Linked DNA regions of Homo sapiens: region 2 is linked to region 1. The links come from fine-mapping of genetic effects on gene expression. Tissue or cell type: whole blood. Region 1 holds a variant in brackets; the other region holds the start of a gene. All regions are shown on one strand. Distances are from middle to middle.

Region 1 (8,181 bases):
TTGACCAGGATGGTCTCGATCTCCTGACCTCGTGATCCACCTGCCTCAGCCTCCCAAAGTGCTGGGATTACAAGCGTGAGCCACTGCGCCCAGCCTACACTACATATCCTTATACATTGCACATACATTTTATTATATATGAACGATACCTAGCAATGAAATTACTAGGCGAAAGGGCATGTATATTTACAACTTTGATAGTTATTGCCAAATTGCCCTCACCTTCACTAACTATGGGTTAAATTTTTTTTTATTATACTTTAAGTTTTAGTGGGTTAAATTTTTTTTAACCTTTGCCAGTTGAATATATGTAAAAACAAGAGATTCTTTTACAAAATACTTATAAAGAAAAATGTTCCATCATTGAGCAATATGAAGTATATATTTCAACAGTCCAAAATACATTAGATAATTATACAATTCTTTTAGCCAAGATTGTGACTCAGGGTTGTAATATTTTCTCTCAGTATCCATTTATGAAAAACTACTGTTTATTGTTAATTGTTACTGTGTATCTAGTAATGAAAGCCCAGCCCTATTTATAGTAGAACGTGAGAGTTATCTTATGACTAAAATTGCTATGATTCATGGTACGAGACAGTCACTAAAATTTTCATCCCTGTGATTGAATAACCCAAAAGAATGCACCATGGTTGCAAAGTATAGTTGAAAAGAAGGAAGATTTTCAGAGGGGGCCATTCTCAGGGATGGGGCTGAAGCCTGACCACTGTCCACAGGACAGACGAGCACAGAATACACTTTTTAAGATTAGCACCACAATGCTTATGCAGTCTGGTAGTCAATCTTTTCTCCATCACTCAGTATCATATCATGAGCATTTTTCTATGTCATTAGTCAATAATAAAAATATTTTTTCCAGCATTATTCAGTCTTTCTCTATATTATAACCCAAGGCAGTTTTAGCTTGAGCTTTCCATTGCTGGGTAGCCCAGTGCCCTGGAATGAGAATAGACTTCAGAATTAGACTTCAGAATCTACATTCAAGTCATGCTTCTGCCAGTTAGTTATGTGATCTTAGGCAAGTTGCATAACCGGACTGAACCACATTTTCCTCTTCAGTAATCTGGGTAAAATAAAAGCCAGCTCTCCCCCACACTACGATACTGTGAGGATTAGAGGAAGTAACACAGGCAAAGTGCTTTTTTTTTTTTTTTTTTTTTTGAGACAGAGTCTTGATCTGTCACCCAGGCTGGAATGCAGTGGCATGATCTTTGCTCTCTATAGCCTCCGCCTCCTAGGTTCAAGCAATTCTCGCGCCTCAGCCTCCTGAGAAGCTGGGACTACAGGTGTCTGCCACCACACCCAGCTAATTTTTTGTATTTTTATAGAGATAGGATTTCACCATGTTGGCCAAGCTGGTCTCAGACTCCTGACCTCGGGTAATCTACCCATCTCGGCCTCCCAAGGTGCTGAGATTACAGGCTTGAACCACAGTGCCCGGCCGCAAAGTGCTTTTTGCATTGTTAAGTAGTAAGAAGTGACTCATTGCTTTAACTCAGACCCAAAGGGCCTCTCCCTGGGTCTCCTGACTCCCCCTTCTCCTTACTTGAGTGATTGAGGTCCTCTGAGAGGAACCCCCTCTTGAGCAGTGAAGACCAGACTTTTATTCTGTCACTTAAAGACTCTCACAGTCTGAACCAAACTTAGGCCCATCTGCTGATCCCGGTATCTTGCCACCATTTCAGTCCATTTCTTGTACTTTCACATAAAAGCCTAATTTTTAGGTATCTTGCTGATATTGCCATTTGCCCTTTATTTTCTCTTATGCCTGGCCCAGTGCCAACTTTCTTGTGAGGACTTCCCTGACATCGAAGACTACTATGGTTTACTCCTCTGGGCTCACACAGCACTTGGTCTCTATTGCTGACCTATACATGGTTATCACATAGTTCAAGAATTCCTTGACTCTTGGGGCATAGTTGTCACCTTTTAGGTAGTCTGCTAATCCTATGACTCCTCTCTATTTTTTCAAGACTTGCCTCTTACGCAGCAACCCTATTTGGCCACAGCTGATGGACAAGGGTGAACCCCTGGGCCAATAAGATTCTCTCTTCAGGGACTTTAGAATTGACAGCCAGGATGTTGGTCAGTATTGCTGGAAGTGAGAACACGGCCTTCAGGAGTTGACTCAGCCTTTGTGAAGTGCCCATTTTTGGCCCACCCAGGTACACAGAGGTAGAGAATGTTGTCTGCCAAGGAGATCCAAAAGCAATGAACAGACACCAGAAGCCACGTAACCCAGTGAGAGAAAATGACTGAAAGAAAGCACCTTGGTATCTGAAAGCTTTCTAATTCAGGGTTCCAGTGCTTGAGAGGCCCAGCTATAGTTTCAGCAGCTTTGGGCTCTGTGAACTATCCCTGTATAAATAAATGTCTCCCTTGTGTTTAAGAAAGATGGGTATCATAAAATCATGTGAATGTTCGGTAATAGAGACACATCCAAAGTTTCACGGGGCACCTGGAGGTGAGGGAAAGTAGTCAGGAATGGCTTTCTGTAGAAGGTGATGTTGGTTGGACCAGTAGGGAGGGCACTTCAGACAGCGAGAACAGCATAAGCAATGCTGGGAGCTGCAAGCAGTTCAGTGTTGCTGGCACATAAAGGCATGGACTGGCCAGGAGTGAGGCTGGCCGGAGAGGGTGGCCAGGGGCCCAGTCAGGAGCATCTTGGGTGCCATGGGAAGGAGCCTGGACTTTATCCTGCAGGTCAGGGGTTCTCAACCATGTTTGCACATTAGGATTTCCTGGGAAATTTTAAAAAGAAATATGGTTTCTTTCTCCCATCCAGTCCACTTAAATCAGAATCTCTGGGAATGGAAGCAGGAACTGATTTTTTTTTTTTTTAAGGGCCCAGGTGATTCTAATGAGCAGATAGGCTGGAGAACCTGACAGGATGCCTTGAAGGGGTTTAAGTGAGATATAGACATGGTTTTAGAAAGATCACCATAGATGCTAGACTTTGAGGATGAGACAGAAGGCGGGGTGACTGTGGGCAAACTGCTGCAGTGTGCAGGGAGACGCTGAAGAGAACCTGAAATGGGATGAGGGTGCCAGAATAGAGGGGAAGTTTGCAAACATTATTTAGGAGACAAAATAGTTTTCAGTTTAAGATTTAGTGACTGGAGAGAGATGGAAGGTAGTCAGGGTTGTCCTGAGGGTCCTAGCTTGGGTGACTAAAATTGCCCCAGGCGGCACTCACCAGGGTTAAGCTGTGGATGTGTGGAATATGAGGTGGTGCCTGGTAAAGATCAGGCAGCTGAATAAGGCACCTAAGGCTTCAGGGCTAGACCAGGTGGAAACAAATTTCAGTTTCACAGCTCATTTTGAGTGTTGTCATTTATTTTTTATCATTTATTGAGGAGAACCTCCAAAAAAAAGTCACTTTTGTAGGTTACAAGGTGTTATGGGTGTTGAAAGCAGAGTGAGCCCCACCCCAGACCACCTCCTGAGACAGGGTGTGATGTGTGTCTCCAAGTGCCTTGAAGTCAAGTGACTTCTCAGAGAGGTCTAAAATTAGCAGAGCAGCTGTGCCTAGTGGGTGGCAACACCTCAGCTCACTAGGCCGAGAATGGGGCCTTCCTGCTGTGGGCTCTGTTGTGTGAGTAGGTCAGGAGTTAAAAGCAAGAATCTGTTTCTTTGGAGAATTTCCCCAGGAGCTGCATGTAGTCCCAGTGTGCTCAAAGAGAAGAGAAAATGTCTTCTGTTGCCAGGTGGAAGGGAAAGAACAGGGAGGGGTATGTTGGAAAGAAGCTTCATAGAAGGGCTGATTTTCAAGAACGTTCTCTATGGAAATGACGCCCTTAATGACAGGTGAGGAGTGGAGGAGCTCACACTGGGGAGTCAGTTCTGACAACTGGAAACCTGCTGTGGGCTGTGTTTTGCACAGAATAATGCTGTGTAGATGCTTTTTTTTTTTTTTTTTTTTTTTTTTGAGACAGAGTCTTGCTCTGTCGCCAGGCTGGAGTACAATGGCGCGATCTCGACTCACTGCAAGCTCCGCTCCCGGGTTCACACCATTCTCCTGCCTCAGCCTCCCGAGTAGCTGGGACTACAGGTGCCCACCACACCCAGCTAATTTTTTTTTTTTTTTTTTGTATTTTTAGTAGAGATAGGGTTTCACCGTGTTAGCCAGGATGGTCTCAATCTCCTGACCTCATGATCTGCCCGCCTCAGCCTCCCAAAGTGCTGGGATTACAGGCGTGAGCCACTGCGCCCGGCCTGTAGATGCTTTCTTGTTGTGGGTTTTCACTCTCGGGGGTGGTTCAACCTGGCCTCCAGATCAGGCCTCTGCTGCCAACCCTGCCAACCCAAGGGATTTGTGGTGGGGGCCAGGCAGGTAGGTAGAAGTGGAGGGAGAGGAATCTCTTCACATTTTTTTTTAACATAGTATAGATGTATATAACATATTAAGCATACATTTTAATAGTTTTATATAAAAACTAACCCTCAAGACATATAAAAGCCTGGAGAGGAGATTGGAGGGGAAGGGTAGTAAATGACACAATGTTTCGTTG[T/A]GTTTCCATTAGGTTGGATTCTCTCTTCCTTGAGCTTTTGTCTACAGATTATTCTACACACACAGGAAGGATGACTGAGAAAATGAAAAATGGCAAGATACAGGACTCACTACCTAACTGAAAAGTTAAGCATGAACAAGCTGTAGGGGTATTATATATCCAGGAGTATTAATTTATATGGCATTTATCTGGGGATTTTTTTCCTACAAAATACCACCATAATCCCAGATGATACCAGAAAATATTTAATAGCAAGATTAAAAAATTAATCTTAACATGTCCTTTACGTTAATGTCCTCCATTCACACAAGGAATCCCCATTCTCCACCCAGAGATCCCAGCTATCTCCATAACCACGGGAAGTTGGTGAGATTGCCTGGAGCAGCCGCTGTGAAAGGCAGGGAGGAGTACAAAAGGAGGAAGCAGATGGGATGCTCCTAGGGCACCTACGGACTGAAAAGGAAGACTTCTGGGCTGGGTCTCAGGGATCATGTTGAGTTCAAGGAAAGAAACTCCCCAAGAAGCTGTGTCCGTTTGGCCTGTATGCGAGCAGATGTGCATTATCTTGGCCAAGCTGCTTCTCTGAGCTCCGAAAGACTTGCTTTGCTTGAAATAGTCTCTTTTGGCCGGGCACGGTGGCTCACGCCTATAATCCCAGCACTTTAGGAGGCCAAGGCGGGTGGATCACAAGGTTAAGAGATCGAGACCATCCTGGCCAACATGGTGAAACCCCGTCTCTACTAAAAATACTAAAAAATTAGCTGGGCATAGTGGCGCGCGCCTGTAGCCCCAGCTACTTGGGAGGCTGAGGCAGGAGAATCACTTGAACCCGGGAGGCAGAGGTTGCAGTGAGCTGAGATCGCGCCACTGCACTCCAGCCTGGTGACAGAGTGAGACTCCGTCTGGAAAAAAAAAAAAAAAAAGAAAGAGTCTCTTTTGTAATCTTGGTTGTGTTTTCTAGTGAGTTCTTGGATGCATTTAGGAGGTGCTACCATAACTAGGAGACCAAGAGGGCAGCAATTCACTCATGAGGGAGGGCAGAGAGAGTCCCAGGGAGGAGGGAAAACTGTGGGTGGAGCTGAGTGCTAGAGGCAAGAACTCAAAGAGAAAGCGGGGACAGATGAGATTGATGGTGCCATACAACCCTCCTTTCAAAGCTGAGTATTTAACATTGTTGAAAAATCAGCATTCATCCCTTTTATTTTATAACTGGTAAAGACCTTTATAATCCTTCAGTGGCCGAGAGGACCTACTGGGCCAGTCTGCTCTGTGACTCTCCCTCATATCTAATGAAATGGGCAAGGCACTCCCAGAGGCAGGCCCTGGGCCCTTGGGTCAGGGATCTACCCCTGCTTTTGAACTTCTTTTGGCCTCCTTCAGTGCTCTGCCCCTTATAGCCGGGCTTCAGGGTATAGTCCATGTCCATGTGGTTGCTTATACCTCAAAGCTACTTCTGGATAGCCTGAGCCAATCTCGTGCTACTCAAGAAGTAAAGGAGAAGAATTTCCAACTATATACCTGGCTTTGTGAATAGTCTATGGGAGCTACTTATTGGGAGCCTCCACAGAAAAACCTGTTTCCCACTGTTACATATGCTCACTTTTCATCCATTCAGATGCAGAGGCTAAAATGTAAAACCTAATATAAATTCAAAAAGGAGGTACATAAGCATTTCTGTATCTATCACTTGCAATGCTCTTTTTACCTGGACAAATCAAGAGCGAACCTGTTCTTATTTGAGGTCACAGGAACGGCACGTCTTTTGTGACATTTCAGGCTCAGCTTACGGAGAGTTTCTTAGTGGTGAACCAGGATGTTTTGGTGATAACTTGCAAAAGGGATGAGTGAAGTAACTACAATGAAGACTGATGATCTAGATTCAGGATTCCATTCCCTTCTTGTTCCTATATGGTTGAACATTGGGAGACACTCCCAGGATCTCCATTTGTTTCTCCATAACTTTAAAAGCAACCAAAATTTTTAACTAGCTCTATGCACCATGCTAAATGCTTTATATAGATATATGTGTGGAATTTAGTCCTCAAAACAATTTTGTGAGATAGGTGTGGGTAACCCCATTTTACAGATGAGGACTCTTTGAGTCCCTGAGAGGTTAAGTAACTTGCCCGAAGTCTGAGTGCTGGTGAGTGGTGGATCTAAGATTCTAAACCAGCTCATCTGATGCCAGGTCCACATACTTTATGCATTTTACCTTCTGGGAAAGAACTAATGCCTCTTTTCGTAAGGTTTGAGAGAACAAATAAGAAAGTACATATAAAAAGCTTTGAGAGTTGGGAATCAAGGTATCTGTAAGCCTTAGATTCTTAAGTATGGTGAAAAGAAAATTGAAAGGGATCAGTTAAAATCTCACAAGATCAAAATGTATTGCTCAGGGATTCTCAAAATTAGGAATTGTAAGTAGAAACATGGATCTCAGCCTTTTTATCTATAGGTAAGAGGCTGAAAAGGCTCAGTTTTGCTGCAGATTCCAAATTGATGAATATGTGTGATGGCTTTCCAAGTGAGAAGAGCTCTCTGAGTCTTGAAAAAATGGTTTATGACCACAACTTATAGGAGGACTATTAGTGAAGGAAATATGGACTTCCAACTGTTTAAAACAGATTTTAAGAAAGAAACCATGACTGTTTTACAAAAGTCTTGTGTAATGGACAGAGATAGCCATGTTAGTTTCCATTTTCTGCAGAAAGGGGGCATCTCATTTAATTCAAATCAACCCAACAGTCCTCGGGGTTTGGAGACCTCTGTCATTCTCCAGATTTAGCCAGGCCAAAGTATAACATATACATGCCTTAGATGTCTTACAAAAGTCACGTCACTCCAGAGAAAATGTGAATACCTCACAGAAGCTCTGGGGACAGTCCACTGACTTCAATTATTTTGGAAAGAAAGTGAAAGCTCAGGAGTGGCCTTTGAGTTGTGACACCCCCCCTTGCATTGCAGGGACTGGCCTCAAATCAATCTAGGCTCTCTGGATAGGCTGGCTTCAGAGCATTTGGTTCTGAAGTGATCTAAACAAAGACATATTTTTTATGGCTATTCTAAAAAGATAGCTGTTGCTGGGCATGGTGGCTCATGCCTGTAATCCCAGCATTTTGGGAGGCTGAGGCGGGCAGATCACCTGAGGTCAGGAGTTCAAGACCAGCCTGGCCAACATGGTGAAACCCAGTCTCTACTAAAAATACAAAAATTAACCGGGTGTGGTGGTGGGTGCCTGTAATCCCAGCTACGCAGGAGGCTGAGGCAAGAGAATTGCTTGGACCCGGAAGGCAGAGGTTGCAGTGAGCTGAGATCGTGCCCCTGCACTTGAGCCTGGGCGACAAAGCAAGACTCCGTCTCAAAATAAATAGGTAGATAAACAGATAGCTAGCTAGCTATCTGGTCTACCCTGTCCTCTGATGTTAGATGCCACAGAAATAGAGAAAATGCAATGTCTTCTTTTCACAGTCTAACTCTGTTGGATAACATGATTTTCCTATTTGACTGTGTTTTTCATGTTGTTAACTCCATATGTAGAATATGTCAGAGCCATGAAGGTGTTTGGCTGAGAATCTTGGAGGCTGGGGTTGTAAACTGAATGTGTAGCCTCCTTCGATGGGAGGAGTATTCACAGAATCTGAGTGCTGAGTGT
Region 2 (8,181 bases), 63 kb after region 1:
CATTCTTCTCATTGAAAAAGCAGCTCCTGCCCCCAATCTGTGTGTTGAAGAAGGGAGTGCAGTCAAATGTAAGAGGGTAGGTTATTTAAAACACTATGGTATATTCTCTACATTAGAAAAACCTCAGATGGGCTGGGTGTGGTGGCTCACGCCTATAATCCCAGCACTTTGGGAGGCCGAGGTGGGTGGATCATTTGAGGTCAGGAATTCAAGACCAGCCTGGCCAATAGGGTGAGACCTGGTCTCTACTAAAAATACAAAAATTAGCTGGGCATGGTGGCACGCGCCTGTAGTCCCAGCTACTCAGGAGGCTGAGGTAGGAGAATTGCTTGATCCAGGGAAGCGGAGGTTGTAGTGAGCTGAGATCATACCATTAGACTCCAGCCTGGGCATCGCAGCGAGACTCCATTGCCAAAAAAAAAAAAAAAAAAAGAAAAATCTCAGATGACATCAGCGAACAGAGAGAGCTGAGATTCTAGTGTTGCTTGTGAGCTTCCCCAGAGGAGGTCGAACCGAAACCAGGTCTCAAATGCAGTAGGGATATCCATCTGCTGTTTTTTAAAAATATTTTTTAAAGTATATTTTTAAAATACAGATAGGGTCTCACTTTGTTCCTCAGGCTGCTGTCAAACTCCTGGCCTCAAGCAATCCTCCGGCCTCCTCCTCCCAAACTGCTGCCATTACAGGGATGAGCCACTGCGCCCAGCCCATTGTAGTTTTTATTAGAATTTATGATAAACTTTTCATTTCATGGCATTGTCAATTATATCAGGTATTTTCTTGGTCATTTTTTATTTTTTTTGTCTGGAAAGCTGCTCTGGGGAGACCTCAGTTTTCTGCCCACCTCCTCTGTGTGTGGCCCTCAAACTAAAGACAAGCCCCTTAAGGATCACCACTCCCATGCCTTGCCCCTACCACGGGTACCTCAACCGCTTCTAAAATTTTTAGATCATCTCTGCTATATTCAACGGCCATGGAAGTTTCAAAAGTTTCCAAAGCAAAATGTTTTGTCTGAAACAAGCTGCTTTGGATTTTGTCTACATGATACAGGCACCTTCCTCTGGGCCCCATAATTGTCTCCTCTGTCACTTGCTTGGTGTTATGACATGTAACAAATCAGAGTGGGAAGGTCTTAGTTTTCTCTTTGTCAGCATTCTGGGATGCCCTGGTGGTAACAGGAAATGCACCCACAGCTCCATGCAGCTCTCTTGTAGGTGCTTTTCTTACCTGTGGGCCAGATCCTGTCCTATGTAATGTTGATGTTTGTAGAGTTTATTTTTTGGTTTAGGGCATGAAATGATAATCGGCTTAAGCAGCACCAGAATTGAAGCAGAGAAGGTGAGGACACAGATTTCTTGGCCCTTTGACGAACAAACTGAAGATCACTGTTCAGTCTTCCCAACTGCAGAAGCTGTGATGTGGCGGAAAGAGCTGGAACCGTGCAGCTGGGCTTGCTCCCCCATGTCCCTCGTCCATCCTTCGTGGCCCACTCACTTGCCAAGAGCTGTTGATGTTGAAGCACCCAGGATATCCAGGAGGCAGCACCACATTCAGCAGGGCATTGTGACTTGGGGCCAAGTCTTTCAGCCTCCCTCAATCTCACTTTCTTTACTTGCAAATAGCAATACCACAGACCCCTCACAGGGATCATGGGAAGGTTAAAGAAGTGGAACTGGTTCAGCTGGAGCTTAGTAAGTAGTCAAAATCAACCTTCAAGAGTCCGTGTCCTGGAGCTCAGCAGCTGTCCTGGGCCTGGAAGACGGGGTGTGCTTCTGCTCTGTCTCCTTCTGTGGTTCTGGGGTGGGGGATCTGCATAGCCTGTGGGGTCCCCAGAGAGCCTGGGGCTGCTGCAGAGCAAGTTCTCTGTTGTTGGCAAATAAAGCCATAGCAGAGATGACTCCAGCAAGTTGAGCACCCTCTGAACAAAGAAGGAAATGTATTATCTCTTTCCTGAGGCCTATTCATATTGGAAAAAACACTACCAGATTTAACTTCAAAATATAATTTTTCCAGCACAGCTGGAATGCACCCCCCGGCCATCCAGAGGCTTCTAAATGCATTGGGAGCTCAGTTACGACGCTCACCAAGTTGTCTCATCTCGCCTGGAACCCACTGGCCCTCACAGAGTTGAGAGAATATTCATTTTCTTGAACTCTTATGAACGACAGTTTCTCGCTTGCCATGATTCTGTGGAACTGGGCATCCGGCATCTCAGAGATGGGAAGTCGGAGAAATTCTGAGCATAGGCTGTATTTGCTGAGAAGATAAAGAGACTACTTTCCATTTCTCACTTCTCTCTCAAAGCGCAAAAACAACGGGCCTGTCTGGCCTAGTCACTGCTTTCTGTCTCTGAAGTGTTCCAGGCGCCAGAACCAGCCTTCCTCCTTATTAACGTTCCATGATGATTCCTTCCAGGTGCTGGGGATCCAGCCCGTGGGGTTATTAGAGGGCAGACACCAACAGGGAAGGTGTTGTTGACTCACCCTCACAAATATCATTCCTTACATTGTCAGGGCAATTACAAAACACGACTTTAAAAATACTATAATAAAATATCCAACTGAAGACTTTCAGTATAATTAATCCGCCAACCTTATATTTTGAGAAGGTTGAGAGCCGTGAGGGAAAATAAACCCTAGAGAAATACATTGTTTTTAAGTTCTTTCAATAAAGACATGTAGGCATTTTCTAATGTTTTTCCCAAAAAGAAAGAACATCTACTCCTCTAATTCCACAAGAGATATAAAGAATTAAAGAAATTGTGATTAACAGCCCTGTGTCTGGAGCTCATGAAGCTCAGAGGATTGGGAATGGAAGTGGCAGGTTTAGGCTTGAATCAGAACTTCTGGATTTAGGAAAACAAAACAGGCCAGGCGCGGTGGCTCACACCTGTAATCCCAGCACTCTGGGAGGCCAAGGCGGGCAGATCAGGAGCTTGAGACCAGCCTGCCCAACGTGAGAAACCCTGTCTCTACTAAGAATAAAAAATTTAGCCAGGCATGGTGGTGGCACGCCTGTTAATCCCCGCTACTTGGGAGATTGAGGCAGGAGAATCGCTTGAACCTGGGAAGCAGAGGTTGCAGTGAGTCGAGATGGCGCCACTGCACTCCAGCCTGGGCCACAGAGCGAGACTCCGTCTCAAACAAACAAACGACAACAACAAAATGCAAACTCTGGCCAGGCGCGGTGGCTCATGCCTGTAATCCCAGCACGTTGGGAGGCCAAGGTGGGCGTATCACTTGAGGTCAGGAGTTCAAGACCAGCCTGGCGAACATGGTGAAACCCCATCTCTACTAAAAATACAAAAATTAGCCAGGTGTGGTGTCATGCACCTGTAGTCCCAGCTACTCAGAAGGCTGAGGCAGGATAATCGCTTGAACCTGGAAGACAGGTTGCGGTGAGCACAGATCGCGCCACTGCACCCCAACCTGAGCGACAGAACAAGACTTCATAAAAAAAAAAAAAACCCCACGCAGATTGCAGATTCCTGGGCCCCATCTTCGCCTTTCTGAATTGCAGCCTTTCACCCTTTAAGAATGAGAGGGTGAAATCTGCACGTCATACAAATAGCCCAGGGGCTATTAATCTGATGTTGCTCCCCAGCTCCCTCCAACACCGTCAGAGGGTGCACGGATTAGGCCTCTGCTGCGTGCAGAGAAGCATCCTAGGTGCTGCGTGGCTGTGCCAAAGCAGCAGAAACCGGTGGTGTGCCTTAAGATGCATGCTCCAAAGCTGTCCACAAGGCCTCTGGTACAGGCTTCCAGGTCTACGTCTCGGCTTCCCCGACAGTGTCCATGCGACACTGTCACCAGTTTCTCCTCTCACAAGCAGAAAATCAAATTCGGATTGGGCAAATGATTCCCTGCCCGGGTGTGGAATAAGGGTCAAGTCCTAAGTATGGAGAGAGAGCGCCGGCTCCCGCCAGGATATGCGAAGCTCTGGAGGGGAGGCCAAGCCACCAGGCACCCGGCGGGAGAAGAGGAGGCTGGAGAGCGCCGCCCAGTGCCTGCAGGCCGGGCGCTCCACGCCTCCCCTCCCTCCTGCACACCCCATTCCCCTCCGGTTGCCCCGCCTGGGAAGCCCCCTCCCCACACCTCCCGGCCCAGCATCTGCACGAGAGCCGCGAGCCCTGGCCCAGAGCTCTGGGTGGGCCTCTCACCCCAGACGGCGGCCGCAGCCCGTCCCTGATCACCGGCCGCCTGAGCCCTCCGTTCGCTCGGCGCGAGCGCCGCCACCCGTCCTTACCCCCATCCAGTCCGAGGCCAGCCCCGTAGGCTCCGAGCCTGCTCCGTGAAAAGCCTTTTCCCCAGGAGGAGAGTTACTGTAAAGCAAGAGGAAGCCGAGAAGAGGCGGTGGCTGCAGCGCGCGGGGCCCGGCGGGGGCGCGGGGGCGTCGGGGTACTGACTGGGCAGCGCGGTTTCCCCTCATCCCGGGACACGGTGCGGCGCTAGCGCCACCCAGCGGGCGCGGTGGGAATTGCGCTCCCTTCCTGCGCTGGGGCTCTGGACACACAGGCGACCAAGAATGACGCCTGCAGCCGGATAAACGCTCGGGGCAAGGCCGCTATCATCCCTCTGCCGGGAGTGAGTCAAGTCTCAGCAAAAGAAGAAGCCACTTTGGCCAAAATTCCAAGAGTGCTGATGAAGACGGTGACATCTGACATTTCAATGGCACTTTCCATTTCCCCCGGGGTGCGCATTCCGGGCCAGTGGAGCGCTGCGTCGCCTGTGCAGGACCTGGAGGTCTGCAGGACTGTGACCAGTCGGAGTCTCGGAGTCGTGGGTTAAACATTAGTCGGGAGCACTCGTTCATTCCCTGAGCTCCCCTTGCCCTTCACCCTTCGGTCCCGGAAGCCGGAAGGGAGACTGCCCCGCCCCTTGCCTGCCGCCCAGTGGCTCTCCCGGGGCCCTCTTGGCCCCTCTCTCCCAGCCCTCCATACAGTGAAGGGTTGTTTCCGCTGGTGACTTCCACCTGTGGGAGCAGAGAAAGGAAGCGGGGCAGAGGAGAAGGGGAAGGTGTCAGGCGATTCCCCTCCTTGCGCTGCAAGCCGGGTGGGAATAGAACACCTGCAGCCCTCCCCGGCGCCCTGCGAATGAGGTGGGAGTGGGAACGCCATCAGGGCAGAGCCCCTCCAGCTGGCTGGGGTCTGCACCTCCTCGCCAGCCCGGCCACCTCAAAACGGTGCTTGCCTCCCTGCGGGGGTGTAGAAGCCTCTTGGAGCAGCACTTGTAGAAAATCAAGTCCCTGGAAAGAAGCAAAATTAATCCGTTTGTTTCTCTATTTATTTTTGCTTCCCCACACCAGGTATTCACTTCATCCAAGGCTGCCCAATGTCACCTTCCACCCAGAGGAATCTCCCCTCTCCACCCCAGGCCAACAGCCTCTGCCTTCAGCTGTGGCCTCCACTCTGGCATTACTCTGGGCAGAGGGCTCAGGAGGGCTCAAGGAGGACCAGTGACATTCAGAGTGGCCAGAGTAAAGGGAGGGAGGGGGAGTGGTGGGAGAGGCGTGCAGAAGGCACAGGTGAGGTGGCGGAGGGGGGCAGGTGGTGGGGGGAGCGGGCTGGGGTGGGATGGGCCTGTCAGCATAGCAAGGGCTGTGATGGGCTTGAGTCTGACAGGGGGCAATGACCTGACCTACGGTTTTGTAAGATCACTCTGGCTGCCACCTGGAGAGCTGGTGTGGGGATGATGGCCATGGTAGACACAAGGGGAGCAGTTAGGAGACCACCACAAGTGACCATGCGGCCCAGGCGAGTAGGGTAGCAACAGAGATGGGGAGAGGAGGTCAGATTTGTGATCTGTATCTGAAGGTGGAATGGACAGGAATTGCTGATGAGCTTGGGTGTGGTGCATGAGGGAAAGAGAGAAATAAGCATCATTCTTAGGATTTGTCCTGAGCAACTGGAAGAAAAAGAATGACAGTGGCTAATACGGTTAGCCAGGCGCTCCTCTAAACCCTTCACATAGTTTAACCTGTCTAGATTTCATAACACTCCTATGAATTAGGAATTAGTTCTTCCCACATTTTACAGAAGAGGCAATCGAGGCCCAGAGAGTTGAATCAGTTTGCATAAAGTCCCACCATTAGCAAATGGAAAAGCTGGAATTTGGACCCAGCACTTCACCACTGCACACTTCCCCGGCTTTACAGAAAGAGAAATGCCGTGAACTGAGCTAGATGAGCCCGGGGGAGGAATGGGGTTTTTCCGTGGGGGTGTGAATCAAGAGTTCTAGTTGGAATGAATTCAGGCTGAGGTGCCTTTTAAACATCCAAGTAGAGATATTTAGCTCAGCAGATGGATGTATGACTCAGGCCCTGGGTGGCAAGGAGGAGCATCTGGGGCTGGCGTGTTAAGCATGGAGAGGAGACAGGAGAAGAGGGCAGAAGGCTGGGAAGTGGGATTAAATGCTGCATGTGAACGGATGAGGACAGAAATGGATACTTTAGAGCATCCTGTCAAGCCTTGGGGTGTCGGGTGATGAGTGTGTTTAGGAAATATTATTCTAGAGCAGTGCTTGTTTTTGTTTGAGGATTCAATAAAGGCTGTCACCTTGTTCCAGAAAAAGTACATGAACACACACGCAACATTTTGCATACAATTTCAGGGTGTCCGTGGGTCCCCAGAGGACATGCATGGGCCATTCTATTTCTATCAAACCTTACTTCATCCACCAGCCACAATCAAATTTCACTGTATCTCTCAAGTCCTGACCAGACCTCTGATGCAGTCACCCCACCCTCTCTGTCTGCATGAGATAGGAGCTGCACTCCTCTGAATCGAGACGGTTTTGAATTGAGACGGTTTTGAATGTCTATGTAGAATGCAGCTCGCCCTGCAGGTATTGCCTGTGTACATGTCTCATTTGGAAATGGTTCCCCTGAGGAATGAGAGGATGAACCCACAGAGTCTTTTGCTCTCTTATTCACCTGGGAGGTGATGTTATTCATCTATTTCCTAGATTTATTTGTTTTTTTGGTGTTTTTTGTTTTTGTTTTCGTTTTGAGATGGACTCTTTCTCTGTCGCCCAGGCTGGAATGCAATGGCGTGATCTCAACTCACTGCAACCTCTGCCTCCCGGGTTCAAGCGATTCTCCTGCCTCAGCCTTCTGAGTAGCTGGGATTACAGGTGTGCACCACCACACCTGGCTAATTTTTGTATTTTTAGTGGAGACCGGGTTTCACCATGTTGGCCAGCCTGGTCTCGAACTCCTGACCTCAAGTGATCCACCCTCCTCAGCCCCCTATAGTGCTGGGATTACAGGCATGAGCCACCATGCCTGGCCTTATTTCCTAGGTTTAAAGACAAAACTAGCTCGTTCTATTGTTTCCATCGACACAATTGCTTCCCCAATATATAATGGGCATTTGTTGCTATTGTTCTGTTTGTTTTGGCGGTCCAGCTTCCAGCATCCATTCTATTTGGGAGGATTCCCCGGTGACTCTTGGCAGGAATCCATCAGCCCCTCTGGAAATGGAAGGAATGGAAGGAACCAGGTGTCCCTCTTGTCCCCCACCCCTGCAGAGGTCACAGCCTTCCTATCCTGCCCAGCCCAGTGGGGCTTTGAAGGCTAGGGTGCAGGAACAGAAGAGAACTTATTTTTGGCCATGGCAGCTAGGCCAGGAGACCATCTGTGAGAGTAGCATCCTGTGTCCTGTGGCAGCAGTCCCGGCCACGGTATCCTCACCACAGCCTGGCCACAGCTTGGCCTCGCCTGCATCTCCTGCTGCCAGCCGCCTTGATACCTGCCCATTTTCCCCATGCGGTTCTCCAGCCTTCCGACTGATAAGTTCTGCACATATTTCCCCATGTCCATTGCCTGCACGAGTCAGCCAGGTCAGCTCTGTCGCTTCCACCAAGACCTCTCACTGCAGTGGCTGTGCTGAGCTTGCAGCTGACGTCTGCTCTACAGTGTCAGCACTTGGGATTCTTCTTCTGTTGGGGGTCCCTGAAGGTGGGATTCCTGGCCTGTCGAAGCATTGCTGTGTGACACATGCCAGATCCTTGCGGTTGCCTGTGAAGCTCGGAGCCCTCCATATCGAGGGAGGAAGGCTTTCCTTCCAGCAAAGTCTTGTGGCTTTCAGCGAGAGCGACTATGCAGCAGCCAGACCAACTACAGAGGTCACAACAACAACCCCTGTCCCGATGACAATCCTGTGATTTTCCTGGCTCAAAATGA

The links. PIP is the estimated chance that this variant, and not a neighbour inherited with it, causes the effect.
Region 2: it holds the start of C1orf220, and the variant in region 1 is fine-mapped to the expression of C1orf220 in whole blood (TOPMed, PIP 0.96).

Annotation. Positions count from the first base shown.
Region 1 is chr1:178,601,534-178,609,714 of GRCh38, reverse strand. No RefSeq gene overlaps it. Among named protein-coding and RNA genes, the nearest start is that of C1orf220, 63 kb to the right of the region's middle. RefSeq lists enhancers at 1,311-1,390, 3,495-3,634, 3,645-3,794. The variant T/A (reference allele first, on the strand shown) is at 4,533.
Region 2 is chr1:178,538,950-178,547,130 of GRCh38, reverse strand. C1orf220 (chromosome 1 putative open reading frame 220) reads right to left here and starts at 4,335. Exons shown (of 3, transcript NR_033186.1): 1 at 4,246-4,335; 2 at 1,228-1,918; 3 at 1-37. It overlaps LOC124904460 (a long non-coding RNA gene), which reads left to right and starts at 4,486. Exons shown (of 2, transcript XR_007066748.1): 1 at 4,486-5,097; 2 at 5,305-6,568. RefSeq lists silencers at 4,101-4,170, 4,201-4,530 and an enhancer at 4,581-4,640.